Regions from separate parts of the Homo sapiens genome. Here all the other regions are reported to be linked to region 6. The links are microRNA targets in miRTarBase. Many come from high-throughput screens and were not tested one by one. Region 6 holds a microRNA gene; each other region holds the end of a gene's coding sequence. Distances are from middle to middle.
What was found. The annotated mature microRNA hsa-miR-4747-5p reads AGGGAAGGAGGCUUGGUCUUAG and lies in region 6 at 2,012-2,033, shown strand. An mRNA with a match to its seed (bases 2 to 7 or 8) in the 3' UTR can be bound and repressed. Matches are read on the target gene's strand: a 7mer-m8 pairs with bases 2 to 8, a 7mer-A1 pairs with bases 2 to 7 and ends in A, and an 8mer does both.

Region 1 (4,547 bases), not on the chromosome of region 6:
GTTCTGACCTCATCGTTATTCTGGCAGAGTATACTCTGAAGCGCTGGCTTATTTTGGAGGGGATGCAAAGTTTTCTCCCACCTACCCTGTGGGGCAGACTCAAACATAATTCTTTGCTTTTTTCTTCCCCCTTTGCCTGACTTGCAGTTCGTCTAATGATTGAAAATCCTTACGAGACCCGCTCTGACAGCTTCTACTTTGTTGACAACAAGCTGATAATGCACAACAAGGCTGATTATGCCTATAATGGAGGCCAGTAAGTGCTGCAAGAGTAGATAGGGGAGGTGCTTTGCCGCGGCCACAAGATCCTGGCACACGGAGATGATCGAAGCTGCAGTTTGTCAACACACATCTGGAACCTGGCCCCAGGAAGCCAAGGCTGGGGTGGCAGTTTCCTGCGCGCCAAAGGAGCTGCCAAACAGTGCTGTGTTTTCTTCCCCAGTATTTTTTCTTCCCTTTTTTTCCTGCCCCGTAGGTTGCAGAGGTACTATAGTAAAGTAAAAGGTTAGGATAAGGGTCCTGGAATCCAGATAAAAAAGTTTATTTTCCGTAGTTCTGGCTGCCTGTTGGTTGTCTTGACGACCAGGCATAGCTGTGCCTGGTGAGAAGGCTCTGGCCAGGCCCACCAGCAGGTCAGCAGCTCTTAAGGTTCCTGGGTGCTGTGGGAAGCTGAAAGGTAGGCCTCTTCCAGGTAGCTCCTCCTCTCACCTCCGGCATTGCCATCAGCGCAGTCTGCCCTCGGTCTGTGTGAAGTCTTAAACCAACTGGAAGACACTTGAAAGGGTGGGGAGGGAGGGAGGTGCCAAGAGTGGAGGCACCAAGGAATGGGTGATGCTGCCAAGCTGAAGGGTCTGCTTTGTGGAGAGGCTGCTGCTCTGTCTGACTTCCAGGGTCTCAGCCAGCCCTCCTGGGAATAGACCAAGTTTTCAGCCTGGCAGTGCCTTCTGTTCCCATTTTGGAGGACAGACAAGCTTGCTCCACATCTCCTGGCTCCTCCCTTCTGAGTCTCATGAAATAGAATGAGTCAGCTCTGCTCATGGAACAGTAGTATCTCTTGAGGCCAGAGCAGGTCTTGTATTTTGTTTTTTTATTTCCAGACTTCTTTCGGGGAGGTTTTATAAAATGACAGTGGTGTTCCCAGCATATGTGATATGTGGTTAGACTTCTGATAGTATCAGCTTCCAGGGGCTAATCTGGCTTATGTTGGGAGGATATGCTTACGAATCAGCAGCAGCTTTCTAAAGGAGAGATTTGACTTTTCTCTGCACTGCACAGCCTGGAGGATTGGCTTTTGATGGGGATTTGCCTCCGAAGCTCTTTGTACATTTCTTGTTTAGGAGGGTTTTCCTATCTACCTTTCTACTGAAGTAGTTTCTGGAACTTTCCTGGTGGATCAGAGTTACGTAATGCAGTCTGAGCCTTCAGACTGCTAGTTAGAATTGTTTTAGGTGTTCAGAAAGGGCAAAATAGGCTGATGTGGCCTGTCAGAGTGATGTGTTCTCAAAAAAGTTCACTTGCACATCTGTGGGCTGCTTTTGTCCTCAGACCCTTAGTGGACAGACTCCACAAACCCTCTGATGAGACGATTGATGTGGCCAGGGTCCAGTTAGCATCAGTAGAAGGATGTCACTAGGAAAGGCCCAGGTATCTGGTAAGTGACTGTGAGGTGTCACAGTACCTGTGACAGGAGAGTGTCCTGATGTGCTTGGGAGAAAGGCCGTATGGGGGCCAGGGATGGAAGAGACAGTGTGTGGCCACAGAAATTCCTGTCCATCCACCACCAGTGCTGCTCCCTGTGTGGGCTTTAGGGCGAGTGGCCCCGAACCTTGGCCCAGTGCTTTGTCCCAGGCCAGAGTCTTGGCAATGCCACATGCTGGCAGCTTTCTCACTGAGAAGGTCCTAGCTTACCCCTGTGTGCTGGCCTTGGATTCAGCCCCGAGAGAGGGGAGAGACCATTCCTCCTGTGGAGTGGGTTCCTTATCACCAGACCGGCCACTCTCAGAACTGGCGTCCACTGTAAATCCAGGTGCCTTACGTGTGGCTCTGTCCCTTATGCTGCAGGGGAAAGCTGCATTGCCATTGTTCCCACCTCCTCACTGGCAGAAAGATGCCAGGGCTGTTAGCACTGTCTCCTCACCTTCTGTTTCTCATTGTGGCTCCTCAAATGGGATTTGCATGTTCCTGTCAAGCGTAACAACAATCCCTTCTCTCTTTGACAGAGGCCCAGGTGGGACAGTTTCTACTATTTGATATTTGAGTATTATCTGGGATGTGGTTCTGGAGCTGCCCAGAGCTGTGCTTAGTAGAGTGTGTCTTGGAAACATGCCCCTGGGCACACTGTATCTGCTACATTAGTGGGCTATCTCTTATCTGCAGTGTTCGCTTTTGCTAGAAAGAGGATGTGGAGGAAGGAGGAGGTGGGCAATCTGGCTTGAGTTGTGCTGTATCCTCTTCCTTGTTAGCTTGCCTTAGTCTCACTGGAGACCATTTGCGGATAGTGCTTGGTCCATGCCCAGCAGGACAGGGCTTTGCTGCTTCTGAAAGTCTGGTGTTCTGTATCTGGGGCTGTGGGTTCCTGTGTCTAGCTGCTCAGGAAATCTTGAGAAGCATTCCACTCTGGGGTGTAAACCAGTATGAGTTTGAAATTCAAGCGTTTGTACCTGAGTTGGGGAGAGAATTGCAAGGCATACTTTCTCTGAAAGTAACAGAACCATTCAGGCTGCCATGTTATTAAGGAATCTGAACTGTTGATAGCAGTTACCTTGTGGGTGATACAATGGGAGGCGGCAAAAAAACTACCTGCATAGGAGACCCTGCCCTTTGTCAAGAGCTGGGAGCACATTTCATCAGAGTAGCAGGCCCACCTGGTGCCAGAGGGCCTGCCCCTCCTGCTTCTGTTCCTTTGCCTTGCAGTCTCCTGGAGAGAGCCTCTCTTTTCCTGTACAGCCTTTGGGCCAAAATGCCCTTCTAGCTTCTCCAAAGAAGATCCGAGTTTATTTCATTCTATGTTTTAAGAGGTAAAAGGACATAACAAGTGAAAGAAGTTTTGGGCTAAAGTAGGCTATGTCTCCTTATGTATTACTCAATACTGTTTTGCAGAGAAAACATTTTTCAAGCATGTGCTTCCTGAAGACACCTCAGTCTTTGGGCCATTTGATTTCCAATACATAGGGTGGAAGAATGTGATTTTGGGGCTGACCATAAACTGGAAATTTGTGAAATGGCAGTGATTGGGCAATCTTCAGTTTATTTTTTCAGTTGAAGTGGAACTCATTTCTGGAATGGATTTAATAGGCTGTGTCTAATGTACAAACTGGGTGAGTCCTGCCTTAGTGTGTCCTGCCCCACCGGTACGCTTCCAGGATACTCTTTTCCCCTCTGTAAAGTCACTTTCTTCTGATGGCCAGTGTCACTATGATGTCAGTGAGGTCTGGGGATGAGGACAGTGTGTCCTGAAATTCACAGGACTGACTCCTCACCCCAGTGCACGAGGATTCCTGTGGCATCAGGTGCTGCTGTACCTGGTGTAGGAGCCTAATCATTGAACCATTGTGTTACTCACATTCCATGTCACAGAACATATCAGCCTCAAGAAGGATTTGGTGGAGGTGGATTTACCACTGGTTTTACAAAGGACCGTGTAAAGTCATTGAAGTTGTGAAAGTCTATTTTTTTTCCTGTAAATCTATTTTTTACAGAATATAAGAAACATCAATGACCTGATCTGTCCTTCCTCCTCCTTCCCGCTTCCCCCAAAATCACATTCCAGTTTTTATTGTCTTTGTGTCCAAAGTAAACTAGGTGACTTATTTGTATAAAATGTTATTTTGCCACATGAGACAGTAATAAAAGAAAGATTTTCACAGTACGTCTCCCTCGTCCTGTCTCCTGATTGTTGGGCCCGTTGTGTTGCTGAGGGGAGCAGGGGCGAATGGGGGCTCCAGGTTTCTCTTACTTTGGCTATTATGTGGCCCTTCTGTAAGTAGTTGAACTAGAGTATAGCTGGCTTCTAGGGTGATTGAGGAATTGTACTGGACTTTAGGCTTAATATTTTTGCTTTATATTTTCCCAGGGTGAGTGGCTTTGTAAATTGAAAGTTTACATGCATGTTTTAAAGGTAGGGTTTTTTTTTTTGAGATGGAGTTTCGCTCTTTTTTCCCAGGCTGGGATGTGATGGCATGATGGTGGCTCACTGCACCCTTCGCCTCCCGGGTTCAAGTGATTGTCCTGCCTCAGCCTCCCAAGTAGCTGGGATTACAAGTGCATGCCACCACGCCCGGCTAATTCTGTATTTTTGGTAGAGACAGGGTTTCCCCATGTTGGCCAGGCTGGTCTTGAACTCCTGACCTCAGGTGATCAACCCGCCTTGGCCTCCCAAAGTTCTGGGATTACAGGTGTGAGCCACTGTGGCTGGCCATAAAGGTAGGCTTATTAAGAAATACTTTAACTACAGTAAAATTTACCTCAATTAAGAGTATTGATGCATTTTGACAAATGAATACTTTTATTACCCATCACAATCATGATATAGGACATTTCCATCGTAC
Region 2 (5,109 bases), 2.5 Mb from region 6:
GTCCAGGAGCTCCTCTGGGGGACACCTCCCTGGGGGACAACCAGGGATGTTCTGGGATGTTCTCTGAAGATTAAGGGTGTGTCCCGTGGTCACTAGGGCCTGTGCTATTTCCACAGGAGGCTCAGCCTCCTCTCCAGATGCCGGGTGACTCTGCAGGTCCTTCCGCAGGGAGGTTGGGGCCGTTCTCCCTGAATCTGGGGCTTAGCATCTGAGCAGCTCAGGTCACGGGATCCAGGCCGCCCGTGGGAAGTGTCAGGTGGGGGTGGCCAGGCCCCTCTGCTCTCGGAGGCTGCCCTGGCGGGTGGGGACAGCTGGCCAGCCTGGAGCTGGCCCAAATACCTTCTCTCTTCCAGCGTCCTTCGACCTGAAGCAGCAGCTGCTGCTCAACAAGCTCATGGGGAAAGATGAGAGCACCTCACGGAACCGCCGCTCGCTGAGCCCTATCCTGCCCGGCAGACACAGTCCTGCGCCCCCACCAGGTGAGCCCCCACCCCCTGACATGAGCCCAGTCCCAGGGCAGCGGGGCTGCGGCACCACCCGGCGACTGCTCAGTCTGAACCCTCTCTCTGTTCCAGACCCTGGCTTCCCCGCCCCGAGCCCACCGCCAGCTGACAGCCCCTCCGAGGGCTTCTCTCTCAAGGCCGGGGGCACAGCCCTCCTGCCCGGGCCCCCAGCTCCCTCGCCACTGCCGGCCACACCACTCAGCGCCAAGGAGGACGCCAGCAAAGAAGACGTCATCTTCTTCTAAAAGGGCCGTGACTCAAGGTGCAAGGCCCCTCCCTGCCCTGCCCACCCTTCCTGCTCTCTGGGGACCCCCATGGGGTCACCATGCCCACCCAGCTGTCCCCTCCTCTTCCCTAGCAAACCACTGATGACCGCCTGGCAGGGGCCAGCCTGTCGGTGCTCTGGGCCTTGCAGCTGTTTCTGTAGGGTTAGCGGTGGTGCCGGGGTCACTTTCTGAATCTCTTTTTTTTTTTTTCAAAAAGGAAAGTTTTTAATGGAAAGTTGAGCCAGAACTAAACCAGGGAGCTGTCTGAAATCATAGCACCCCATCCGGGTGGCGGGGAGATCAACTCCGAGCTGTTTTTCCGAGGCAGTGAGGAACGGTGCCGGCTCTGCACGGAGCTGAGGACAGGACAGACCTTGCTTTGAGAAGGAGCTGCCGGCCGGGGCCACGCTCCACAGCCGCCGCGCGACAGTGGAGCCAAGGGTTAGGGCACCAGGAGGGGCCAGGTGGCGTCGGCAGCATCTGTCCCCAGAATCAGGCAGAATCCACTTCCCAAACAGAGCCCCACGCAGGTTCACCATGAACCTCAGGGTCAGGGAATGAGCCAGGCACGGGGGCATGGGCAGAGAGGGCCACGGGGCAGGGCCCACTGAGGGAACATCAGTGGCCCTCCAGTCAGGTTCTGTGGGTTTGGAAGCCCATCGTGAAAGGGGCTGACCTTTGCCCCTTTTTACTTGGCATTGGTTTTGAAACCAGCTGTTTCCCAAACTCTGCTTCCCAAGGGCAACCGTTGCTGTTCACACGCTCAGCCTGTCTGGGGGAGCGGGCCTCTAGCTTCAGCCAGGGCGGGTACACACCCTGGGCACAGGGTCCTCAGCCCCCGGGAAATGAGCTCCCAGGGCTGGCGTCCCACCTTCCAGGTGGGGGCTGGCACATCACAGACTGTCGAGAGCGCCATGTCCCAGGGCATGCAGAGGATGCACCTAGAGACGTTGCAGCAAGTGGACAAGTGGCCGCTGTGCGGGCCCCTCGCTTGTAGTGAGCTGTTGCAGCTTACGGTCCGTTCCCTGGAGGGGTGGAGGAAGGAGGTGTTGGGCAGCATCAAAGGTGCTGGGACATCCCAGGGTGGTGAGATCCATCCACGATCCAGCTCCGGTGGAGAAAGGGCCCATGTCAAGCCTTGTTCTGCACCCCAAGCATTGGTGGTAGGACTGGGTCCTGGCTGATCGTCCTTGTTCCCAGTGGGGTACATGTGAGCCCCTGCCAGGGCCAAGTCCTTCTCCCGAACCCAGGGTCCTGGGAACTGCAGATCCCGGGGGGATTCAGCCCTTCTCCCACTGTGCTGGCAGAGGCACTCCTGTGACGCTGAATACAGTGAACAGGGACATTCCCGCCACTCGGGGACAGATGGGCACAAGGGAGGGGAAACTCCATCAGGAAGTGCTCCCCTGGGCAGAGGCGCCCACTGGGTGCTGTGGGCTCAGGAGGGGGCGGGGCAGGAGCTGGTGCCAACCGGGAACCAGAGCCCCACAGCCATACAGCCCATTGGTGACAAGGTCCTGAGAACACAGTGGCCAGGTGTCCCCAGGCTCCTGGCCCCTCCGACGACCTCAACTCTGCCCAGCCCGGTCCCTGGCCATCAGCGACGCTGTCCGCCCCCCGTCAGATCCCATGTGTGCCATGTTTATCATCAGTGTTTTGTATTTTTGTACTGAGTATCGGAGCACTTTACAGAAGCTGACTGTACATTCCTGTTCTGTTGTGAAGAGAACATTCCCAGACCCTGGCACCCTCCTGAGCCGGCGTGTGCCGGTCCAGCCCTCCGAGATGCCACAATTCCTTGGATGGGGGAGAAGTTCAAGGAATTTCTGCTCGGCCACGCGGTGGGAACCCCGCGTCCCCGCCATGTGGCAGAGGGGTCTCAGTCGTGCTAGGCATCGGGCGGCAGCGCCGACAGCCCTTCCCTCGCCAGTGCCCCTCGGCCACTCCTGGGTTGGAGCCCGATTTTATTTGTAAAGTTGACAGTCGAGCAAATGTTCCTATTTTCGTGGGATCTGCACACGTCTTTGTCAGTTGTGGTCATGATCTTAGTCACCTGCTAATTATTTTTACAATGATTACAACATTTCCTCACTGCGGGATATTTCTGACCCGCTTTAGAACTTAAGACCTGATTCTAGCAATAAACGTGTCCGAGATGAGCGGTGACTGGCGTGCACGTTCTTGGAGGTTTTATTTGAGGATTTTCTTCTGCCCAAACGTTGCTGCAGGAGTAGCAGGTTCTGTTGGGGGCTCCCCATGGCTCCTGCCCCTCAGCTCGCTCACCTGCCCTCCGTGTCCTGCTTAACGCTCTGAAGACCCCTTCAGGTCCAGTCCCCAGGAGTTGTTGGGGGTTTTGTTTTTGTTTTTGTTTCTGTTTTTTTGGTTTGTTTGTTTTTTTGAGACAGAGTCTTGCTCTGTCGCCCAGGCTGGAGACCAGTGGCAGGTTCTCAGCTCACTGCAACCTCTGCCTCCCGGGTTCAAGCACTTCTCCTGCCTCAGCCTCCTGAGTAGCTGGGATTACAGGTGTGCACCACCACGCCCAGCTAATTTTTGTATTTTTTTAGTAGACATGGGGTTTCGCCATGTTGGCGAGGCTGGTCTCGAACTCCTGACCTCAAGTGATCTGCCCGCCTCAGCCTCCCAAAGTGCTGGGATTACGGGCACAGGGCAGGAGTGGGGCGTGGAGGTGCCTGTGGAGGGTCCTGCCCACCGGGTACACTTCAGGCTTTGGTGGCGCCTCCACGAAAATCTTTTTGCTTTTAATCCACAATAACCGCAAAGGCTGGAACTTTCACTTCCTCCATCTGGGGTGAGAGGCAGCTTGGCCATGAGTATGAAATCATCATTTCCACCTGGTCTGAGTCCCGGTCCAGTGAGGCGAGGACCCTGCTGTTTCAACAGAGGGTTTCCCATCACAAGGGGACTAGGTGTAAAGTCGATCACTAGCTCACTAGGAAGCGCAAAAAGGGAACTCTCAGGCAGCACTGTCCACCAGGAAGATGATGCAGGCCACGTGTGGAATTTTTCATTTTTAGTAGCCATATTAAAAAAGTAAAAGGAGGGCCGGGCACAGTGGCTCATCCCTGTAATCCCAGCATTTTGGGGAGGCGGGGGCTGAGGCAGGAGGATAGCTTGAGCCCAGGAGTTCAAGACCAGCCTGGGCAACATAGTGAAACCCCTTCACAGAAAAATTAAAAAATTAGCCAGGTTGGCCGGGCGCAGTGGCTCACGCGTGTAATCCCAGCACTTTGGGAAGCCAAGGTGGGCAGATTACGAGGTCAGGAGATCGAGACCATCCTGGCTAACAAGGTGAAACCCCGTCTCAACTAAAAATACAGAAATTAGCCGGGCGTGGTGGCGGGCGCCTGTAGTCCCAGCTACTCGGGAGGCTGAAGCAGGAGAATGGCGTGAACCCAGGAGGCGGAGCTTGCGGTGAGCCGAGATTGCGCCACTGCACTCAGCCTAGGCAATAGAGCGAGACTCCGTCTCAAAAAAAAAAAAAAAAAAAAAAAAATTAGCCAGGTATGGTGGCGTGCACCTGTAATCCCAGCTACACAGGAGGCCAAGGCAGGAGGATTGCTTGAGCCTAGGGGTTCAAAGTTGCAGTGAGCTATGATCGTGCCACTGCACTCCAGCCTAGGCAACATGGTGAGACCCTGTCTATAAGAGCTTAAAAAAAAAAAAGGAAATTTGGGGGATAGAAAAAAGAAATGAAATTTAAAAAAAAAAGAAAAAAGGGCTGGACGCAGTGGCTCACGCCTGTAATCCCAGCACTTTGGGAGGCCGAGGCAGGCAGATCACCTGAGGTCCGGAGTTTGAGACCAGCCTGGCCAACATGTTGAAACCCCATCTCTACTAAAAACACAAAAATCAGCCGGGCGTGGTGGCAAACACCTGTAATTCCAGCTACTCTGGGGGCTGAGGCAAGAGAAGCGGTTGAACCCGGAGGCGGAGGTTGCAGTGAGCCGAGACTGCACGATTGCACTCCAGCCTGGGGGACAACAGTGAGACTTCGTCTCAAAAAAAAAAGAAAAAAAGGATGTAATTAATTTATTACATTTTTATTTATTTTTTTGACATGGAGTCTTGCTCTGTCACCCAGGCTGGAGTGCAGTGGCACGCTATCTTGACTCACTGCAACCGCCGCCTCCCAGGTTCAAGTAATTATCCTGCCTCAGCCTCCCGAGTAGCTGGGATTACAGGCACCCACCATCATGCCCGGCTAATTTTTGCATTTTTGTAGAGATGGGGTTTCACCATGTTGACCAGGCTGGTCTTGAACTCCTAATCTCAGGTGATCTGCCTGTCTCGGCCTCCCAAAGTGCTGGGATTACAGGCGT
Region 3 (5,109 bases), not on the chromosome of region 6:
TGCTGTGACCTTAGCCTCCTCTCTTGGAGCCTCAGTTTCCCCATCTATAAAATGAGGAGGAAATACTGACTAGGGCCATGATTCTTAACCCTGGCTGCTCACTAGATTCACATGGGAGGGTTTCAAACAATACAGATGCCTGAGCTCCACACTCAGAGATGTTAATAGAATTGTTCCATGGCGTGGCCGGTATATTATTAGTATTATTTTTTTTTTTGAGACGGAGTTTCACTCTGCTGGAGAGACCCTAGGCTGGAGTGCAGTGGCGTGATCTCAGTTCGCTGCAGCCTCTGCCTCCTGGGTTCAAGCAATTCTCCTGCCTCAGCCTCCTGAGTAGCTGGGATTACAGGCACACGCCACCACGCCTGGCTAATGTTTTGAATTTTTAGTAGAGACAGGGTTTCACCATGTTGGCCAGGCTGGTCTCAAACTCCTGACCTCAGGTGATCCACCCACCTCGACCTCCCAAAGTGCTGGGATTACAGGCGTGAGCCACTGCGCCCGGCCCGGTATATTAATTTTTATAGCGTGGCAAATGATTCTAATATAAAGAGGACTAAATTAATCCATAAATGGGTTTTAGTGTTAGGAAATTCCCTGGAAGTATGTAGAATTCTGTGCATAAACCCCCAAAGGGTCTCCCTCTGTCACCCAGGCTGGAGTGTAGTGGCACAATCACAGCTCACTGCAGCTTCCACTACCTGTGCTCCAGTGATCCTCCCTCCTCAGCATCCCCCCGCCCCCACCCCATAGCTGGGACTACAGGCGTGCACCACCACACCGGCTAATTATTATTATTATTTTTTTATTTTTTTGAGACGGAGTCTCACTCTGTCCCCCAGGCTGGAGTGCAGTGGCACGATCTCGGCTCACTGCAAGCTCCGCCTCCCGGGTTCACGCCATTCTCCTGCCTCAGCCTCCCAAGTAGCTGGGACTACAGTCGCCCGCCACCACGCCTGGCTAATTTTTTGTATTTTTTGGTAGAGACGGGGTTTCACCGGGTTAGCCAGGTTGGTCTCTTATCTCCTGACCTCGTGATCCGCCCGCCTCGGCCTCCCAAAGTGCTGGGATTACAGGCGTGAGCCACTGCGCCCGGCCCTATTTTTACATTTTTTTGTAGAGATGGGGGAGGGGGTCTTGTTATGTTGCCCAGGGTGGTCTCGAACTCCTGGGCTTAAGTGATCCTTGCGCCTCGGCCTACCAAAGGGCTGGGATTAAGGCCCGGTTTTTAAATATAAATAAAATGAGAACTTAATGCTCGGGTGGAGAACAGTGCCACCTGCCGGTTTCACTTTGCATTAGCAATATCTAAATATCTGCCAATGCCATATAATGCAATTCACTGTTTATTGAGCACCAACTCAACATGCGAGGCATTGTGATGCACCCTTTAGGACATGCAGAGATAAGAGCTCCTTTCCCCATGAAGATGGCAGCCTAGAGGAGACAATGGGCATGTAGGTAAAACCTTTGATCCAAAGCAGGCAGTCGATATGGTCCCATTGAGGGTCTGTGGGAATACAAGAAAAAAGCCTGGGGCCAGGGCTGGCTTCGTGGTTGTGCAGCCTGTGCTTGGAAGGCCCCTGCACTTGGTTTCATCATTTCCTGTGGCTGTCTTGAAGTTCTTTTTTTTTTTTTAATCCCGTGTTCAGTCGAATTGAAATTCTTGAATAATTTTTGAACAACGGGCCATTTTGCACTGGGGCCCACAAATTATATAGCTAGTTCTACCTAGAGTAGTTTGGGAAATTTTGGAAGAGGCGACACAGGACCTGGCAGGGCAGTAGTGGAGGGAGAGGAAAACAGGAGGCATATGGTAGTGTGGAAGTGGGGGTGGGATCCTTAGGCCTGGGTGACTGGGTGGTGTGGGGGAAGGAGCTAGAGGTGGTGCTGCAAGGCAGGTGGAGAGGGAAAGGAGTTTGATGTTAGATGGCTTCAGACTCAGTGCAAGGAAGACCTCCAAGGACAGTTTCAGCAGCTGGAACTCAGAAGCTAGGCCAGGGCTGGAGCTTTGGTCACAGACTTCCAGATGGATACCTTGGGGACACCAAAGGTTATAGGATCCCCTGAGATGGGTGAGGACTAAGACAGAGCTGTATGGCTGGGTCTGGGCTTTTGGTCCAACCTAGATTATTGGCTTCTGGGACTCCTGCCTTGAGGAGTGGTGGAGGAAGACTTTGGGGGCAGGGCTGGACGATGAGCGCTTGAGCCCCAATTCCCCATGTGGTGCGCTATGACACTCTTCTCAGCCTCCTCCCTCCTGGCTGCCTGCTTCAACACCACCATGGACGGTGAGTCAGGCGCTCATTTCAGGGACATTTCCCATTCAACTCATTTGCTGCCTTCCTCAGCCAAGATTCACCTTCAGGGGCCACAGGCTTCTTCCTCACCCCTCACAGTGGGTTGCAGCCTGCTGATGGCAGATGGCAGAACTTAGTCAAGACTTTGGGAAGGCTAAAGAACATACCCCATTTCCTCTCCTCTGCGTATTGTTCGTTTCTTTTTTCTCATGGGACTTTCCATACCCTGGGGGAGGAGTTTTACAAGAAATGAGCTCTTCCTTAGGAGGGCAAGCTCTTCTCCAGAGGGTTAGAACCTAGAACCCACATTTCAGACCAGTTTTCCCATCAGGCACCACCAGAGGCTGGTGCAGGTAGCTGGCACCCATGATACTTATCTGTGTCCTTGATTCCAATAGCCCAAGCCAGTGTTCTGCCTGGTTTTTTTTTCCTTCCCTATAAAGCACAGACTGGGTAGAGTGGTACCTAGGGTGGGTAGGCTGGTGGGGAATAGATTGTGATTCTGTCCATCAGCCCCATGCAGAGAGGCCCCCCTCTCAACTACATTACTGCCCAGTCAATCCCAGGAGTTCTGCCCAGGGCTATCCTGGGAAAGCTTTGTTTTGAAAGGGTCCCGTGGTCACCTCTGGGCCTGGGGTGCACCCTTGCTTGGGATGGAGAGATAGCTAGTAGGGTAACAACCCCAGGGCAGGGACAGGGACTCAGGATGCCAGCTGCCTCTGCACCCTGTTCCTCCTCTAGAAAACGTCCAAAAGGTAGGCTCTCTGCTCCATCAGACTTGTGGTTCTTTTCTTTCTGTGCAGGTCCCCTCTTTTGTGTGTTGGTGCGAGGGTTGGGGGAGGCACACTTGGGGAGGTGGCTCATACAGACCAAACTCTGCCTTGGATAGGATTGATTTTAATGCAGCTGTAGAATCCCTGATCCTCAGGACTGCGTCCTGCTGGGCCTGTGGGAGAAGTGACTGGGGGGGACAGTTAAGGCGGCAAGACCTCATCACTGTCCAGGCACCTGCCCAGCCACCAAATCTGTGGACCAGGGAGCAAACACAGGCAAAGGTACTATGCCTGGCTGCAGTCAGAGAGAGTCTCGGGAGGAGCAGGTCTTTGTGCTCTAGGGCAGGACACAGTGCTCTAGGTGGGAACTGGTGCCCCAGGTGGGACCGAATTCCCCAGGTGAGACTTAGAGAGACCCGGTGCTCCAGGTGGATCTAATATTCCAGGAAGGACCTGGTGCTCCAGGGTCCTGATGCCCCAAGAGCTTGCCCCCTATGCCTGGATGTGTGAAGCTGTGTGTTTTCTCTTCAAGAGGGGACACAGATGCCTGGAGGGTAAATGTCCCAAACTTGGCTCCTCGGGGCATGTAAAATTGTGTGTGAGAGGCAGGGAGAGCTGAAGAGAGAAAAGGACAGAAGGATAGGGACACGCACATAGGTCTGTAGACTAAGTACTGAGGGGGAAGGGAGAGAGAGAGAGGTTTAGAGACAGAGTGAGAAGAAATGAAGACAGGGAGAGCCATACACGACGGACACAAAGACAGCACCACTCAGGTCTTGTCTTCCTGTATGTGTAAGGACAAGGGAGGGAGTGAGCCGGGTAAGACCCACCAGGCCCGGTTTCTAGGGTGAGCCTTCAGCTGCCCTTCTGCAGCAAAGGGGCAAGGAAGCAGGGCCTAGAACCCAGAAACACGTCCCCGCGCCTGGCGCGGGCGCAGCCCTCCAGGGTGGGCAGCCGGGGCTACCGGGCGCGCCTAAGTCTGGATGAAGAGGTGGAAGTTGGTGCGCGTGAACTCCTGATGGATGCTCTCCAGGAGCGCGTCGGCGTCGGTGGCGGGCTCGGGGACGCCGGGGTGACCCGGCCGCACGCTGTATTCCGGGGTGTAGGTGAAGGAGAAGGCACTAGGGTAGAAGAGCCCGTCGGCGCGCACCAGGCTCATGGGGATTGTGATGGGAGCGCGCAGCCAGCGCCAGTCGCTGCAGAAGGCCGCCACGTCCGGCACCACGCACACCAGGGACCGCGGGCTCCTGGGGGTGGAGCACCAGGGTGAGGGCTGCGGCGACTCCGACGACGCGTGCACCCCCTTCCCCTGCTCCCCGGGGCCCAAGAGAGGCTGCCTCACCACCCCGTACCTGTACATGGTTTCTGCCTCCACGTCCCCAAACCACACCTTGAGCCCCGCGTGGAAGTTCTCTCCGTGGAGCTCCAGCGTGGCCACGTCGCCCCCGCCGCTCAGCTGGGGGAGGGTGGGACCAGGTGAGGTGAGAGAACCAAGTAGGGCGGGAACCCGCTGCCCCCCACTCACTAGCACCACCACTGCCCAGTGCAGGCAGGGTCCCCCTGCCCAACGCCCCTAGCGCCCGGCTTCACCTCTAGGGTGCTGATGAGAGGCACCGGAGTGACCGGCTCCAGGGTACACGCCAGGCTGGTGCTGAAGGAAAATTCCACCGACTCGGTGCCGATGATGGTCCAGCAAGAGCTGTCGTTAAGCAGAGCCCTGTTCGCCTCCTTGGGGCAGGGAGAGGCCTGGGAGGAGACCCAAGGGGACGAGGCCGAAGCTTCTCATGGTGGCCACCAGTGTAGGGAGCCAGCATGGCGCGTGGGCTTCTGCGTTAGACCGAACTGGATACTAATCCTAGGCTCTGGGGTTCACTTGTCCCCTCAGCTTGGACAGTGCCCTTAAGTTCTCTCACTTAGCGTTAAGAAAGCTTGTTGAGCTAGCTGATTTCTTCTTTCTTCTTTCTTCTTTCTTTTTTCTTTATTTTCCTTCCTTCCTTCCTTTTCTTTTTCTTTCCCTTTCTCTCTCTTTTTTCCTT
Region 4 (5,109 bases), not on the chromosome of region 6:
CTCTCTTTCCCTCCTAGAAGGAAAGAGGAAGCCAGAGAGGCAGAAAGGAGGCCAGCAGCAGGGCGTGAGGCACAATGAGATAGAATGGGAGGACCTCACATGGAGGGACGCTACAGAGGACCAGGACAGAAGACACACACACCAAGAGCAAACAACCAAACTTTATCCAGAAAAGCATATTTGTAATCACCACTAAACAATGAGGCACATCGGTCCCCTCTCCCCAACCACCCTCACTCTTCCCAAACCCACTCTCTCTTTTGGCTTTTATAGAACACTGTAGAAATCCTTTCCTGAGTCTGCAAATGGCCCCAGACTGGGATGGGAGCTGCCCAGAGTAGTCTTGGGCTGGACTGAGTCCTGGTGCCCAGAGAGGGAGACCTATGCAACTGCCTCCAGTATCCAAAAGTTCTGGGGGCAGGTCGGGTGGCCACCCCTATGGCACAGGGCCTTGAGGGAGGGTGAGTGTGGTGGCGGTCTTACGTGTTCTTCTCATACCTGGCAGACAGAGTGAGCACAAGCCGCTGGAAGCCAAGCGGGAAGGCACATCTAGAAGGGCAGTGAGCTCTGGAATGCTACAGGCACGTGTGGATGGATGAGGCTCCATGGCGGCCAAGGAGATATCTGCTCCTGAGTAAGGTCACCTGACCACAGACAGCACCAGGGGCTGGGGGGCTAAGAAGGAGATCTTGAGAAGGATGGACCTGAGCTAAAGATGTAACTTAGATGGTGATCTGAAAAAAGGAAAAAAGAATAAACGCTGGAACTCAAATCCACTGTTTAGGGTACAGGAGTACACAGCTAAGTTCCAGGTATCCAGAATCTTGTGTCCAAATCATAGCACAAGGAGAACAGGAATTCTCTTGAGTTAAGGCAAAATCAATCTTCACCCATCTGGGCTCTTCCATTGCATGGTTTGGAAAGGAAGGGGCTGGGCAGAGATCATTCCTCTCCCCATCTCCCCCTACTGCCAGTGAAGACTCTGAAAGCTTCTGCAGGCCAAGGCCAGAATGGTGTTGCCAGCCCAGGGCAGCGGGCCCTGAGAGCGGTCGGTGTGACCAGCTCTGGGAATCTCCATGGCCTCAGCAACATGGAAACCTGCAACAGGAGAACCAAAGTCAAAGGGCTTCCAAAGCACCCCAAGTGTCTCACCCCAGGCTCTCACTGCACCAGCACTTGGGGCTGAGGGGACTCCTAGTCTCAAGCCTCGGCCCCCCAAAGTGCTGGGATTACAGACATGAGCCACTGCGACTAGCTGTGAATGTTCTTAATGCCACTGAACTATACACTTAAAAATGGTTAAGATGGTAAATTTTATGTATATTTTACCACAATTTAAAAAATAGCTACATTAACAGTATCTAACATGTATTGATACCCTACTATATAGAGTATAGCCTGGTCATGAAGAGGCCAGGCTGCCAGGGTTCAAATCCTACCTCTACCACTCATTAGCTGGGAGACCTTGGGCAAGGTATTTAACCTCTCTGGGATTCAACCTCCTCATTTGGAATATGGCAATGACATTAGAACCCACCTCATTAGGGTTACTGAGAGAATCAATGGACACCTATAAAATGCTTTGAGACGTGCCAACCATATAATAGAGCTACATAGGTGCTCTGATGGCAACATATCTAGAACTACATTCATGCTTCACACACCCTGAAACTACACCTTTGCAGCCTCCACAGAGAAAGCTAACACCTGTGCACCTAAGCTTTAAAAACAAGCTCACAAAAACACGCAGCCTCCCCTCTTCTAGTTTCTAATCCAGAGAAGGTTGAGCCTTTTCAAACAGCAGACCTGGCCAGGCACAGTGGCTGAGATCTGTAATCCCAACACTCTGGGAGGCTGAGACGGGAGGATCTCTTGAGCCCAGGAGTTCGAGACCAGCATGCAAAATACAATGGGGCCCTGTCTCTACAAAAATTTAAAAACTAGCCAGGCATGGTGGTATGTGCCTGTAGTCCCAGCTACCCGGGAGGCTGAGGTGAGAGGATCGCTTCAGTCTGGGAGGTCGAGACTGCATTGAGCCATAATCACATCACTGCACTCCAGCGTGGGTGACCCAGTAAGACTGCCTCAAAAACAAAACAAAAGAGAAAGAAAAAATAAAAGAGCAGACCATTGAAGGATTTAGCAAAAAGGTTGAATTTTCACAACTCTGTAGATATTGTGGTTATTACCGTCACCTCTCCAACTTGCTCTGAATAAAAACCCTTTAACTTCTGGAAAAGGAGTAGGCTCTGTGCTTTTTATTCAAATGCCCAGGACCCCTTCCAGAAAACCAAGAAGCGTCTTACCTTACAGGCCCAGCCAGCAGGTCACCCCAGCGCCAGAGAGTGGTTCTTCTCTTTGGTAAGGGAGACCCACCCTGTCAGCTGCTCCAGATCAGTGCCGGGATCTCTTGCAGGTGACTTTCCTTTAGCCTGGGAAAACCATCTGAATAACTTTGGCTTCATTTCTCCAACAATGTAAAGGAATGTTCAAATTCCCCAGTTCAGGTCTCTGGCTAGAGGCAGCAATCTACTTCCTCACTGGGGTGGGTCCCCTCCCTCTGCTAGAGAATTCCCTGGGGAAGAAAGAGAAGGCGCCCCCCAAATCTTCAAACAGAACACAGCCAATGGGTTGGGCCCTTCGGCATGAATGAGAGCCGGGACAGCACAGGGATGCTGGGAATCTTAAGGTGGGAATACTGCTCCAGGCCCAGGAGCAGTTAATACAGCAAACTAAATTATTTCTGTAACAGCGGGACTTCTCAGTCTTTGATAAGCTAATGAGCATCTCCAAGAAAGGGAGACAGCACCGTTGACAAACCCATTTGGCCTTGAAACCCTCTTTTAGGAGAGGCGGCTCCTGAGCCAGGGGTCCTGACTCACCCACCCTTTTAATGCAAACAGCGCTGGACTGCAAGTCTGGGTTCCAATCTTACTCTGGCTGTTCCCAAGAGCAGGCTCTGGGTCCCCATCTGTAAGAAGGGGTGGGGTTCACCTTAACATTCCACCATGGTCGTGGAACTCCTAATGCAAACAGATATGGGGGAGGGTGGAGATGAGGGGGGCGGCAGAAGCCTGTGAGGAAGGCTGGGAAGAGACTTGTGTCACGGAGAGGCCAGGACAGTTAGTGTGTGTTTGGCACTGGCCTGCAAAAACCTTAAGGACAAAGGCGGAGTAGGTAGAGGCAAGAGGAGACTCCACAAGTGTAAGGGTACAACCCACCGGCTTCTCCTATCGGTCCCCACCTCGGCGGATGGGCCCCACCCCAAGACAACCGAGCACAGAGAGACCGGCTGGGAGGAGCTTCGCAGGATGCCAGCACAATCCCCAGCTAAAACCAAACTCGTCGCTCATCCTGGGACCAGCCAAGGCCTGTCCTCAGCTCCGCCCGCGGCCCAGCGCCTGCGTTTTACAGCACCGGAGGCTGGATGAGGGGCCAGGGAAGGGAGTGCTCTTCCGACCACGGGGCGGGAGGGAAGGGGGCAGCCAGAAGCCTGGTTCCAATTTGGGAGCCTCCCCCGGATCTGCGCGGCCCCTGTCCACGTCTTAGTCTCAGCAGGGAAGGGAAGAGGAACCGCGAGGTTTCGCCTCGGGGCGGCTCGTCTGCGAGTGTGTGTCAGCCCCTCGGATCGCAGCCTGCGCTTGTCCCGGGAGACGGCGCGTCCGGCGCGGCGGTCGGGATTCTGGGCTGGGATTCTGGGCGGCGGCGGCGCTGCCGTCGGGCGGGAGCTGAGCGTCAGGGTTCCCGGGCGCGGGCGACAGTGGAAACGCTGGAGGGCAGGGAGAGGGTGCCAGGGCGCACCCGCGCGGGGCGGCGGCGGGGGAAGGGATTAAGGAGGCTGGTCTCCGGGGATTCCCCCGCCCCGATCGGGGCCGCGGCGGGCGCGGGCGGCCTCACGCCACCTCCTGCTTGCCCTGGCAGCGACGCCCGCAGCCATAGAGCGCCGAAAGCAGGTAGAGGCCGTGGCAGACGCCGCCGCAGACGGCGGCCGCCAGGAAGGCGTGGTAGGCGCAGGGGAGCGGGTAATCCTTGAGGTTGCAGTAGCTGTGGCGCTGCATCTGGTCGCTCATGATGCCGGTGGCGGCGCCGTAGAGCGCGGCCGCCAGCACATCGTGCGCCACGTTGACCATGAGCCAGCGCGAGCCCAGCACGGGGACCAGCTCGTGCTTGCCCAGCAGCGTGAGGAAGTAGAGGCCCAGGGTGAGCAGCCAGAAGAGCACGGACACGAAGAGCGCGAAGTGCACGGGGCCCTGGTACTTGCTGGTGGCGATAGTGATCCAGAAGGCAGCGCCGGCCAGCAGCTGCAGCAGCCGCAACACGCCCAGCGGGCTGCGCAGGAAGGGCCGCTGCAGGCGCACCGCGCCGCGGGCCGCACGCGCCTGGGGCGGCGGCTGGCGCGGGGGCGGCGGGAGCATGGCCCCTGGGCGCGGTGGCGGCGGCGGCGGCGCCCCGAGCAGCGGAATGGCGGCGCCTTGCTCGCGGGGGCAGCACGGCCCAGGTGCCCGCTGCGCCCGCCGCGGCCTCCTCGCCTTGCTCCCCTCTTAGTCCTCTCTTCCTCTCCTCCTTTCCCCACCCTTCCTCTCCTCTCTCCTCCCCTCGGCCCTCCTCGCCTTCTGTCTCCAGCTCTCCACCCTTCCCACCCGCCCCTTTCCCTTCCCCTTCCCCTCGGCTGTCTCCTCCCCCGCGCGCTCCTCCCGGCTTCCTGCCATCTCTCTTTCCATCTCGCTCACCACCCTGGCGCCCCCCTTTCCCCTCTGCGCCAGGCCCCCAGCTCGGATTCCTTCGTCCTCGGGCCAGGGCAGGGCGCATCTCCCAGCCCGACGCGGGCCTTCCGCCCTGTCCGCCCGTGCGCTGCTGCGCCAAGTTTGCCACATCTGGGGCCGCCCCTGCCCGCCCTGCCTCCTCCTTTTCCCTCTTTCCTGCCATAGCGCCCACCCCGGGCCTCTGGGCTCTTCCTGGGCGCGGGAGGAGAGCAGTGCTGGTTTTGAACTGGCATCCACTGTCACCTGGACATCCGCAGTCTCCTGCCAGGGCCCGCCTCGTCCTGTCCAAAGCTGTCCGAGTTACCCATGTCGGAGTAAGAGTCCATCACCCACCAGAGGCACCGCC
Region 5 (5,109 bases), not on the chromosome of region 6:
TAATTCATGTTAAAAGACTAGAAATTTTTAACCTAAAAAAAAACAAAGAAAATACTAGATATTTTTAAAATAAAAATGTATATATAATCATCTCAATAGATGTAGAAAAATATTAGACAAAATTAACACCTATTCCTGATCAGTCCTCTAAGAATGCAAGGAACAAAAGGGAACTTCCTAAAACTGATTAAGGACGTCTATGAAACATCTACAGTTTACACCATACTTAGTGGTGCAACACTGAATGATCTCTTCTCAAGATCAATTTCAAAATAAGGATATTGTTCTCACTACTTTTATTTCTCATTGAACGGGAGGTTCAGGCAAGGAAAAGAATAAAAGCATTGGAAAGGAAAAGATAGAAGTGCTTCCGCTGGCACACAGAATGATTATTTGTGTAGAAAATCTGATGACATCTACAAAAAAAGTTACTAGAAGAAACAAATAAGTTTATCAAGGTTTCAGAATATAAGGTGAATATTTAAAAGTCTATTATATTTCTCCATACTAGCAATAAACAGTTGGAAATTAAAATTATCAATGATAATTCCCATGTACAGTAGCGTCGAAACTATGAAGTATATATGGTAAGCTAACAAAATATGTAAAAATATCTGTAAGAGAAAACTGCAAAACATTGCTCAGAGAAATTTTAAAATACCTAAATAAATGCAGAGACATACTTTATTCAAGAGTCAGAAAAATCAATATTTTTAAGGTTTCAATTCTGCCCAAATCGATTTGTAGATTCAATGTAATCACAATCAGAATTCCAAAAGAGTTTTTGTAGAAATTAGTGAGCCAATTCAAAAATCAATATGGAAAATATAGTGACATAGCTCAGCCAATGTAACTTTGCAAAAGAAAAATAAATTTGAAGGACTGTCACTGCATGATTTTAAGATTTATTATAAAACTACAGTATTCAAAATAATGTGGTGGTGGTGTATAAATACGCAAATACAAAAATACAACAATCAGTGGAATAAAATAGAGAGTTTAGAAATAATCCCATGAATATACAGACAACTGATTGGTGATAAAGGTGCAAAAGCAATTTAGTAAAGAAAAATAGTCTTTTCGACAAATTTACATTTGTCGAATTAATCCCAAATAAATCATAGACCTCAGTATAAAACCTGAAGCTATAAAATGTCTAGAAAAAAATAAAGGAGAAAATTTTTGTGACCTTGAGTTAGTCAATGAGTTCTTACAAACCACAGCAGAATAATAAAAATGGACTTCATTAAAATAAAAAACTTCTGCTTTATGAGTATATTGTTCAAAGAATGAAAAGACAGGCTGGGCGGTGGCTCACACCTGTAATCCTAGTACTTCGGGAGGCCAAGGCAGGCAGATCACTTGAGGTCAGGAGTTCAAAACCAGCCTGGCCAACATGGTGAAACCCCATCTCTACTAAAAATACAAAAACTTAGCCAGGCATGGTGGTGGGCACCTGTAATCCCAGCTACTTGGGAGGCTGAGGCAGGAGAATCACTTGAACCTGGGAGGCGGAAGTTGCAGTAAGCTGGGATTGCACTACTCCAGCCTGGGCAACAGAGTGAGACTCCCTCTCAAAAAAAAAAAAAAAAAGACAAGACAAGAAAAACATTTCAAGATGCATATCTGATAAAAGGTTTTTATCCCAAATATATAAAGTTCTCAAACTCAACAGTAAGAAAAATAAACCAAGTAAAAATTCTCAAAAGATTTATACAGTTACTTTATCAAAGTTACCTAATACAGATGGTAAATAAGCTTATAAAAATTTGCCTGGGGCGGTGGCTCACGCCTGTAATCCCAGCACTTTCAGAAGCTGAGGTGGGTGGATCACCTGAGGTCAGGAGTCTGAGAACAGTCTGGCCGACATGGTGAAACCCCGTCTCTGCTAAAAATACAAAAATTAGCTGGAAGTGGTAGCGGGCGCCGGTAATCCCAGCTACTTGGGAGGCTGAGGCAGGAGAATTGCTTGAACCCAGGAGGCGGAGGTTGCAGTGAGCTGAGATTGTGCCACTGAACTCCAGCCTGAGCAACAAGAGCGAAACTCTGTCTCAAAAACAAACCAACAAACAGAAATTTGTAGGATACACAGATTAAAACTATGAGGATATACCATTCGATATCTACTAGAATCATTAAAACTATAAGACGAACCATATGAAATTCTGGCATGGATGAGATGGAACTGGAGCACTCATACACTGCTGGTAGGAATGAAAAATGGTACAACTTTGGAAAAGAGTTTGTCAGTTTCCTAAATAGTTAATCATACACCTACTGTGTGATCCAGACGTTATACTCCTAAGTATTTAACCAAGAGAAAAGAAATCCTATGTTCATACAGACTTGTACACAAATGTTCACAGCAGCTTTATTTGTAATATCCCAAAACTAAAACAACCCAAATGTCATCAACAAGTAAATGGGTAAATGAATTGTGGTATATCCATACAAGGGAATATTCAACATTTAAAAGAATGAATTCATACGAGCATCAAGATGGAGACATATGAATCTCAAAATAATTATGCAAAGTGAAAGAAGCCAGACAAAAAAAAAAGACATACTATATGATTCCATTCACATAAAACTACAAAATGCAAAATGAAAGCCGATTGGTGGTTTTCTGGGGAGGAGTCATCAGGAGGAGCATTGTGACACTTTGAGGGATGATGGATATGTTCACTCTCTTAATTGTAGTATGCATGTTCTCCACAAGGTGTGAAAACTTATCAAATAGTACACTTTAAATATGTTCAGTTTATTTTATGTTAATTATATCTCAATAAAGCTTTTAACAAAAGCAAACATCTCTTGCCTACATAAGGATGACACAGCTCTTAAAAAAAAAAAAAGATTCCTGCTAGATTGTGTGCAGCAAAATAAAAAGGCTTCCTTTAAAGTAGAATAGCCTGTGAAGAGTGGGTGGAAAGGAAATAGAAGCCTAAAAATAGAAGATATATTTCTAATTCCATCTGTTTCTATTCAGCGATATTTGCATACCTGGCTTAGTTTGTTCTAGATTGAGTGTCTTCATTTTTTTTGTCTTGTATGTTTCGGAATTATAGCATAGCAAAACAGAGTTGAGAAGAGTTCATCTACAAAAGGTATGTTCTTTAGGGAAAGAAATTCTATTCTTACCTCTGGGCCACACATCCCATGATTCTAACAAGAACTGTTGTGAAGGGTTAAATCTATTAATCTGTCCTCTGGTAGAAAAAAAAATGAAGAAATAATAACTGATTCAGGAAGTGGTAACAGGTTGTGGATTAGCTTACAGAAAAGACCACTCACTTACTAATTACTTTCTTGGGCTCCCCACTTGTCCCAAAATGTGTGTGTGTGTGTGTGTGTGTGTCTGTCTGTCTGTCTGTCCGTAAGTGGTAGAGTCTGGAGATGGACCACAGTTTAAAAACCAAGGATTGATACCTTTTTTAAAGTTAAGAACATGAGTTTCTTGATTTCGGAATGGCCTCTGTCCTTCTTTGTTTCTTCACGTGCACTTTTTCCCAGACATATTTCCCCTTTTTGCTCTCTGCCTGCACTTGAGCAAGTTCTCCATGTTCTGTCTTTCATGCAATTTTAGGAGTGTGAGGGGAAGGTGATAATGAGGTAAAGAAGACTGAGTTCAGAGGGTTTTCAAGCTTGAAGAGGAGTCAAATTTTAAAATAAAAAGGGGAAAATGGACTTCAGGCTGGCAGGGAAGCTTGGGACAAGCTAGGTGAAATAATACAGGTAGCTAGAATCAAAAATGTTGACATAAAGGTGCCAGGCTCCTGGAACCCCAGTTTCTGCAAAGGAGTTCTGCAGCCAGCTAAATGACAGTTTTCTGGGCTCTCATGTTTGGCACCCAAGTGACAAAGAATAGCTTAAATTCCAGAATAAAACTCAAAGACTTTTTTCTTTTCTTCCAGAGCCTTCAAATTCACTGTGCTCTTAGGTTTGCCTTCTTCTGACATATACTGAAGGCAGCTAAAATGCAGTTTTCCGCATAAACAGCTCCTCGTTGTATATATGCACAGGTACCTGAAGGGTATGTCTGGGAGACAGCGCCTCGGACTCTAAATCTGCAGGTAGGAAAAAACAAAACAAACCAACAAAAAAACTTAGGTTTACTGCCACCTTGTTTCAGAAACTTAGCTTTTGAAACTTTTTGTCTTAAAGCCTCCAATCAGTAATAAATGTGGGAAGGAAAACTCAAGAAAATGTCTGAATGGTTAATGAGTAAATCTTTTTGTGAAAGAGGTAAGGAAGGAGACTTTGAGAAATTCCCCCAAGCTTCTCTCTGGCAAGAAGAGGACATTGGTGGGATGCAGGCAGTGACCTCACTAGCAGGTTCAGCAAAGAATAGGAAACTGACGAGAGAGGCATCAAAAAGAATGGGAAACTTACAAGTGGGGCATCAAAGGAGAACCGTCCTCCCAGAGCCATGGGTAGCTGGGGTTCCTCCGAGACAGCCCCATCCAGAATGGAAAACTGGAATAGGAAATTGCTTGCTGGATGAAGTCCTGTGGGGAGTAATGTTTCTGAGTTTGTGGAATCCACATGGTGGTTTTAGAATCTGAAAGTCAGTTAGTGTTGGATCCACAAAACTAAAGAACCAAAAGGTATCTTTGACATCCCCTTGACTGTTTTACGGAAACACTTACTGAAGGCTAGAGATACTACAGAGCCTGTCCGTCCAAGGTCATACACAAAATTGGTGATCAGACTAAGCTAAAAAAACAGACATTTTGGCTCTCAAACAAGAATTCCTCCAGTGACAGTTTAAACCAGATTAATTTCCCTATCAACCAATACTCCACCCCAACAAATATCCATGAACACTCACCAGATCAGCTGTGCTATTAATTTTCAGCAACTTGGCATCCAAAGACAAGCACTTCTCTTGGCTCTTTTCCCAGTTAAATGAGCCCGAGGAAAATAGGTAACAGTTTTCTCCATGCCAGATCCAGTCTTGCGGACAAGGAGCTGGGAAGGATAGTATATCTCATCAGTCAGTTATGTTTGTGTAAAAGCAGTACTGCAGTTCTTAAATCAATGATCCCCTTAGTTCTCTCACGTGCATACTATTTATTTTTGTTTTTGTTTTTGTTTTTGTATTTTTAG
Region 6 (4,000 bases):
TCACCCCGTTGGGATGCCAGACTTCCCTCATTCCTCACAGGTCAATGAGTACGTCGATGCTCGGGACACGAACATGGGGGCGTGGTTTGAGGCGCAGGTGGTCAGGGTGACGCGGAAGGCCCCCTCCCGGGACGAGCCCTGCAGCTCCACGTCCAGGCCGGCGCTGGAGGAGGACGTCATTTACCACGTGAAATACGACGAGTGAGTCATGGCAGGTGGGCGGGCCTGGGTATTCAGGCTCTGTGACGCGCATCCTTGGCTGCGGGTGTTCAGGCCAGAGCTTGGCACTGTCTCGAGATGGTGATCAGGATCTGGGGCCCCATCCTCGAATTCCTAACAGCATACGAGGCTGCCCACTTGGGGACTAGCCTGGGGACCCGAAGCCGGCTGCCCCCTCCTGTGTCTCCGCGGAGGGTTCTGCTCGATCAGTGGCTGAAACTGCCACCCCATCAGTTTTTCTGTTTTATTCCATCTTCCGGGTTTGTCATCTCTCCCTCATCCCCACCCCTAACGTCAGTCTCCAGTCTTTGCACAAGTGTTTACTGGGCACTTCCTACCTGCCAAGTTCGGGGTCCACACACCAGTGGACACAGATGGTGGCTGCGTCTGTCCGTGCTGCCATCGTGAGATTTCACAGACGGTGTGGCTTAAACACGGACATTGGTTGACTTGCTCACTGCAACCTCTGCCTCCTGGATTCAAGCGATTCTCCTGCCTCAGCCTCCTGAGTAGCTGGGACTACAGGTGCCCGCCACCACACCCAGCTAATGTTTGTATTTTTATTTTATTTTATTTTTATTTTATTTTTTCGAGACAGAGTCTTACTCTGTCACTCAGGCTAGAGTGCAATGGCGTGGTCTCAGCTCACTGCAACCTCCGCCTCCCAGGTTCAAGCGATTCTCCTGCCTCAGCCTCCCAAGTAGCTGGGATTACAGGTGTGTGGCCACCACGCCTGGCTAATTTTTGTATTTTCAGAAGAGATGGGGTTTCACTATGTAGGTGAGGCTGGTCTCAAACTTCTGACCTCGTGTTCCGCCCGCCTCAGCCTCCCAGAGTGTTGGGATTACAGGTGTGAGCCACTGTGCCCAGCTTATTTTATTTTTTTGAGACAGTTTCACTCTGTCCCCCAGGCTGGAGTGCAATGGTGTGATCTTGGCTCATTGCACCCTCCATCTCCCGGGTTCAAACGATTCTCCTGCCTCAGCCTCCCAAGTGGCTGGGACTACAGGCGTGCACCACTGCGCCCAGCTAATTTTTGTTTTTGTTTTGTTTTTGAGACAGAGTTTCACTCTTGTTGCCCAGGCTGGCGTCAATGGCGCGATCTCGGCTCACCGCAACCTCTGCCTCCCGGGTTCAAGCAATTCTGCCTCAGCCTCCCGAGTAGCTGGGATTACAGGCATGCGCCACCACGCCTGGCTAATTTTGTATTTTTAGTAGAGATGGGGTTTCTCCATGTTGGCTGGTCTCCAACTTCCGACCTCAGATGATCTGCCTGCCTCAGCCTCCCAAAGTGCTGGGATTACAGGCATGAGCCACCGTGCCCGGCCATGCCTGGCTAATTTTTGTATTTTTAGTAGAGGCAGGGTTTCACCGTGTTGGTCAGGCTGGTCTTGAACTCCTGACCTCAGGTGATCTTCCCGCTTCGGCCTCCCAAAGTGCTGGGATTACAGGCGTGGGCCACCTTGCCCGGCCTCTCCTCTTGTTCTAAAGACACCAGTCCTGTTGGATTGGGGCCCACCCTACTGCAGTGTGATCTCATCTTAATATGATTTCATCTGCAAAGGTTCTATCTACAAAGACCCTGTTTCCAAAAACAATCCTATTCGTGGGTACTGGGGATCAGCCTTTGAACATCTCTTTTTGCAGGGGACACGGGCAACCCATAACAATTTTGTACCTGGAATGTGCCTTAATATACCTGTGTGTTCTCAACACCAGCATATAAGCCTGTTGGGAGGGGCCTCTGCACACTGTCGGGAGGGGCCGTCCCACCTCGGCTCGTTTCCCATTGAGGGAAGGAGGCTTGGTCTTAGCACGGGGTCTAAGGCCCGGGCTTTCCTCCCAGCTACCCGGAGAACGGCGTGGTCCAGATGAACTCCAGGGACGTCCGAGCGCGCGCCCGCACCATCATCAAGTGGCAGGACCTGGAGGTGGGCCAGGTGGTCATGCTCAACTACAACCCCGACAACCCCAAGGAGCGGGGCTTCTGGTACGACGCGGAGATCTCCAGGAAGCGCGAGACCAGGACGGCGCGGGAACTCTACGCCAACGTGGTGCTGGGGTGAGCCTCGCGTCCTGGGGCGAGCCCTTCCTCTCTCCTTTCCTCCCCTCCCGGGGCCCCCGGACTGGCTTTGAAGCCGTCCAGCCAGCGCTGTGTGTGCGAGGCCCTTAGCCTCCGGCCTGGCCTTCCTGCCTCCCCTCTGGGGTCTGTTCCTGCTCACTGCTGAGCATCTTTCTAAGACCGACCACCTTGTGCCCCTGAGTGCCTCTGCCCAGGGAACTGTCTCTGACCCCCAGGCCCTGACAGGCAGAGTTGTCAAACTTCCTTTTTCTCATGGTGTTTTTTTTATCGCTCTGTTGCCCAGGCTGGAGTGCAGTGGTTCGATCTCGGTTCACTGCAAGCTCTGCCTCCTGGGTTCATGCCATTCTCCTGCCTCAGCCTCCCGAGTAGCTGGGACTACAGGCGTCTACCACCACACCTGGCTAATTTTTTTGTATTTTTAGTAGAGACGGGGTTTCACCGTTAACCAGGATGGTCTCGATCTCCTGACCTCGTGATCTGCCTGCCTCGGCCTCCCAAAGTGCTGGGATTGCAGGCAGTGAGCCACCGTGCCTGGCCTCAAGCTTTCTTTTTCTCTCTTGTTTGTTTCAAATTTGGTGAATAGGTCCCATTCACAGGGTCAAAATAGAAAGCACCCAAGACCACACATGAAGGTTCTCCCTCCTCTGCCTGGTCACCCAGTTCCCCTTTTTGGCGACATCACTGTTACCAACTTTCCAGGGACATTCTGTTCATAAACATACACGCCAAACCACACCGCTTAGGAGTTGGCAAACTGCAGTCCACAGGCCTGCTGTGGTCCGCTGCCGGCTTTGACTAATAGTTTTATTGGGACGTGGTCACACCCATTTTTATCTTATTACCTGTGGTTGCTTTTGTGTTATAAGAGCAGAGTTGTGTAGTTGCAACAGAGACTATGCGGCCTACAAAGCTGAAAATCCTTCCTATTTGGCCATTTGCAGAATCATTTTGCAAAGCCTGTTCTTTCTCCCTTGCCTCTTTGTGTGTGTGTGTGCGTGTGTGTGTGTGTGTGTGTGTGTGATAAAATGTATGTAACAGAAAATTTACCTTTTTTTTTTTTTTAAAAGACAGAGTCTCCCTCTGTCGCCCAGGCTGGGGTATAGTGGCATGATCTTGGCTCACTGCAGCCTCCGCCTTCCAGGTTCAGGTGATTCTCCTGCCTCAGCCTCCCAAGTAGTTGGGATTACAGGCGCCCGCCACCACGTCTGGCTAATTTTTGTATATATATATATATTTAGTAGAGTCTGGGTTTCACCATGTTGGCCAGGCTGGTCTCGAACTCCTGACCTCAAGTGATTCGCCCGCCTCAGCCTCCCACAGTGCTGGGATTACAGGCATGAGCCACTGCGCCCGGCCAAAAATTTACCATTGGAACCATGTTTAAGCGCACAGTTCGGTGGCATTAAACGCATTTACGTTGTTACGCAACCATCTCCAGCACTTTGTCCTCTTCCCAAACTGAAACTCTGACTCCATGAAACACTCACTCCCTAGCCCCTGACACCTCTGCATCCTACTTTCCATCTCTGTGAATCTGACAACTCGGGGGACCTCCTAGGAATGGGATCACACAGGATTTGTCCTTTGCATCTGTTCACTGACGTCACTGAGTGTGATGTCCTTGAGGTGCATCAGGCTGTAGCCTGGTCGGAATTTCCCTCCTTTTTGTGGCCGAGTGATAGTACGTGACGTGTTGTC

Region 1: the mRNA of UNC119B is a reported target of hsa-miR-4747-5p. Seed matches in the 3' UTR shown: 7mer-m8 at 3,739-3,745.
Region 2: the mRNA of ARHGEF18 is a reported target of hsa-miR-4747-5p. Seed matches in the 3' UTR shown: 7mer-A1 at 1,276-1,282, 7mer-A1 at 1,501-1,507 and 7mer-m8 at 2,686-2,692.
Region 3: miRTarBase lists RBPJL as a target of hsa-miR-4747-5p. Seed matches in the 3' UTR shown: 7mer-m8 at 3,753-3,759.
Region 4: miRTarBase lists MARVELD1 as a target of hsa-miR-4747-5p. Seed matches in the 3' UTR shown: 7mer-m8 at 3,821-3,827, 7mer-m8 at 3,558-3,564, 7mer-m8 at 3,473-3,479, 7mer-m8 at 3,439-3,445, 7mer-A1 at 3,088-3,094 and 7mer-m8 at 538-544.
Region 5: miRTarBase lists OLR1 as a target of hsa-miR-4747-5p. Seed matches in the 3' UTR shown: 7mer-m8 at 3,596-3,602.

Annotation. Positions count from the first base shown.
Region 1 is chr12:120,719,773-120,724,319 of GRCh38, forward strand. UNC119B (unc-119 lipid binding chaperone B) reads left to right here. Exons shown (of 5, transcript NM_001080533.3): 5 at 148-3,868. The coding sequence ends at 260. MIR4700 (microRNA 4700) reads left to right here and starts at 3,421; the gene lies at 3,421-3,494.
Region 2 is chr19:7,469,551-7,474,659 of GRCh38, forward strand. ARHGEF18 (Rho/Rac guanine nucleotide exchange factor 18) reads left to right here. Exons shown (of 29, transcript NM_001367823.1): 28 at 354-479; 29 at 576-2,928. The coding sequence ends at 748. Among named protein-coding and RNA genes, the nearest start is that of PEX11G, 17 kb to the right of the region's middle. RefSeq lists a silencer at 3,605-3,654.
Region 3 is chr20:45,315,897-45,321,005 of GRCh38, reverse strand. It overlaps RBPJL (recombination signal binding protein for immunoglobulin kappa J region like), which reads right to left. Exons shown (of 12, transcript NM_014276.4): 10 at 4,664-4,819; 11 at 4,426-4,529; 12 at 3,182-4,320. The coding sequence ends at 4,047. Among named protein-coding and RNA genes, the nearest start is that of MATN4, 10 kb to the right of the region's middle.
Region 4 is chr10:97,713,183-97,718,291 of GRCh38, reverse strand. MARVELD1 (MARVEL domain containing 1) reads right to left here and starts at 4,562. Exons shown (of 2, transcript NM_031484.4): 1 at 2,307-4,562; 2 at 142-1,098. The coding sequence starts at 4,415. The coding sequence ends at 3,894. RefSeq lists a silencer at 3,671-3,890 and an enhancer at 4,201-4,250.
Region 5 is chr12:10,155,955-10,161,063 of GRCh38, forward strand. OLR1 (oxidized low density lipoprotein receptor 1) reads right to left here. Exons shown (of 6, transcript NM_002543.4): 4 at 4,832-4,971; 5 at 4,393-4,508; 6 at 2,347-4,067. The coding sequence ends at 3,926. Among named protein-coding and RNA genes, the nearest start is that of OLR1, 14 kb to the right of the region's middle.
Region 6 is chr19:4,930,676-4,934,675 of GRCh38, forward strand. It overlaps MIR4747 (microRNA 4747), which reads left to right and starts at 2,012; the gene lies at 2,012-2,065. UHRF1 (ubiquitin like with PHD and ring finger domains 1) reads left to right here. Exons shown (of 17, transcript NM_001048201.3): 4 at 41-201; 5 at 2,066-2,281. RefSeq lists an enhancer at 1-405.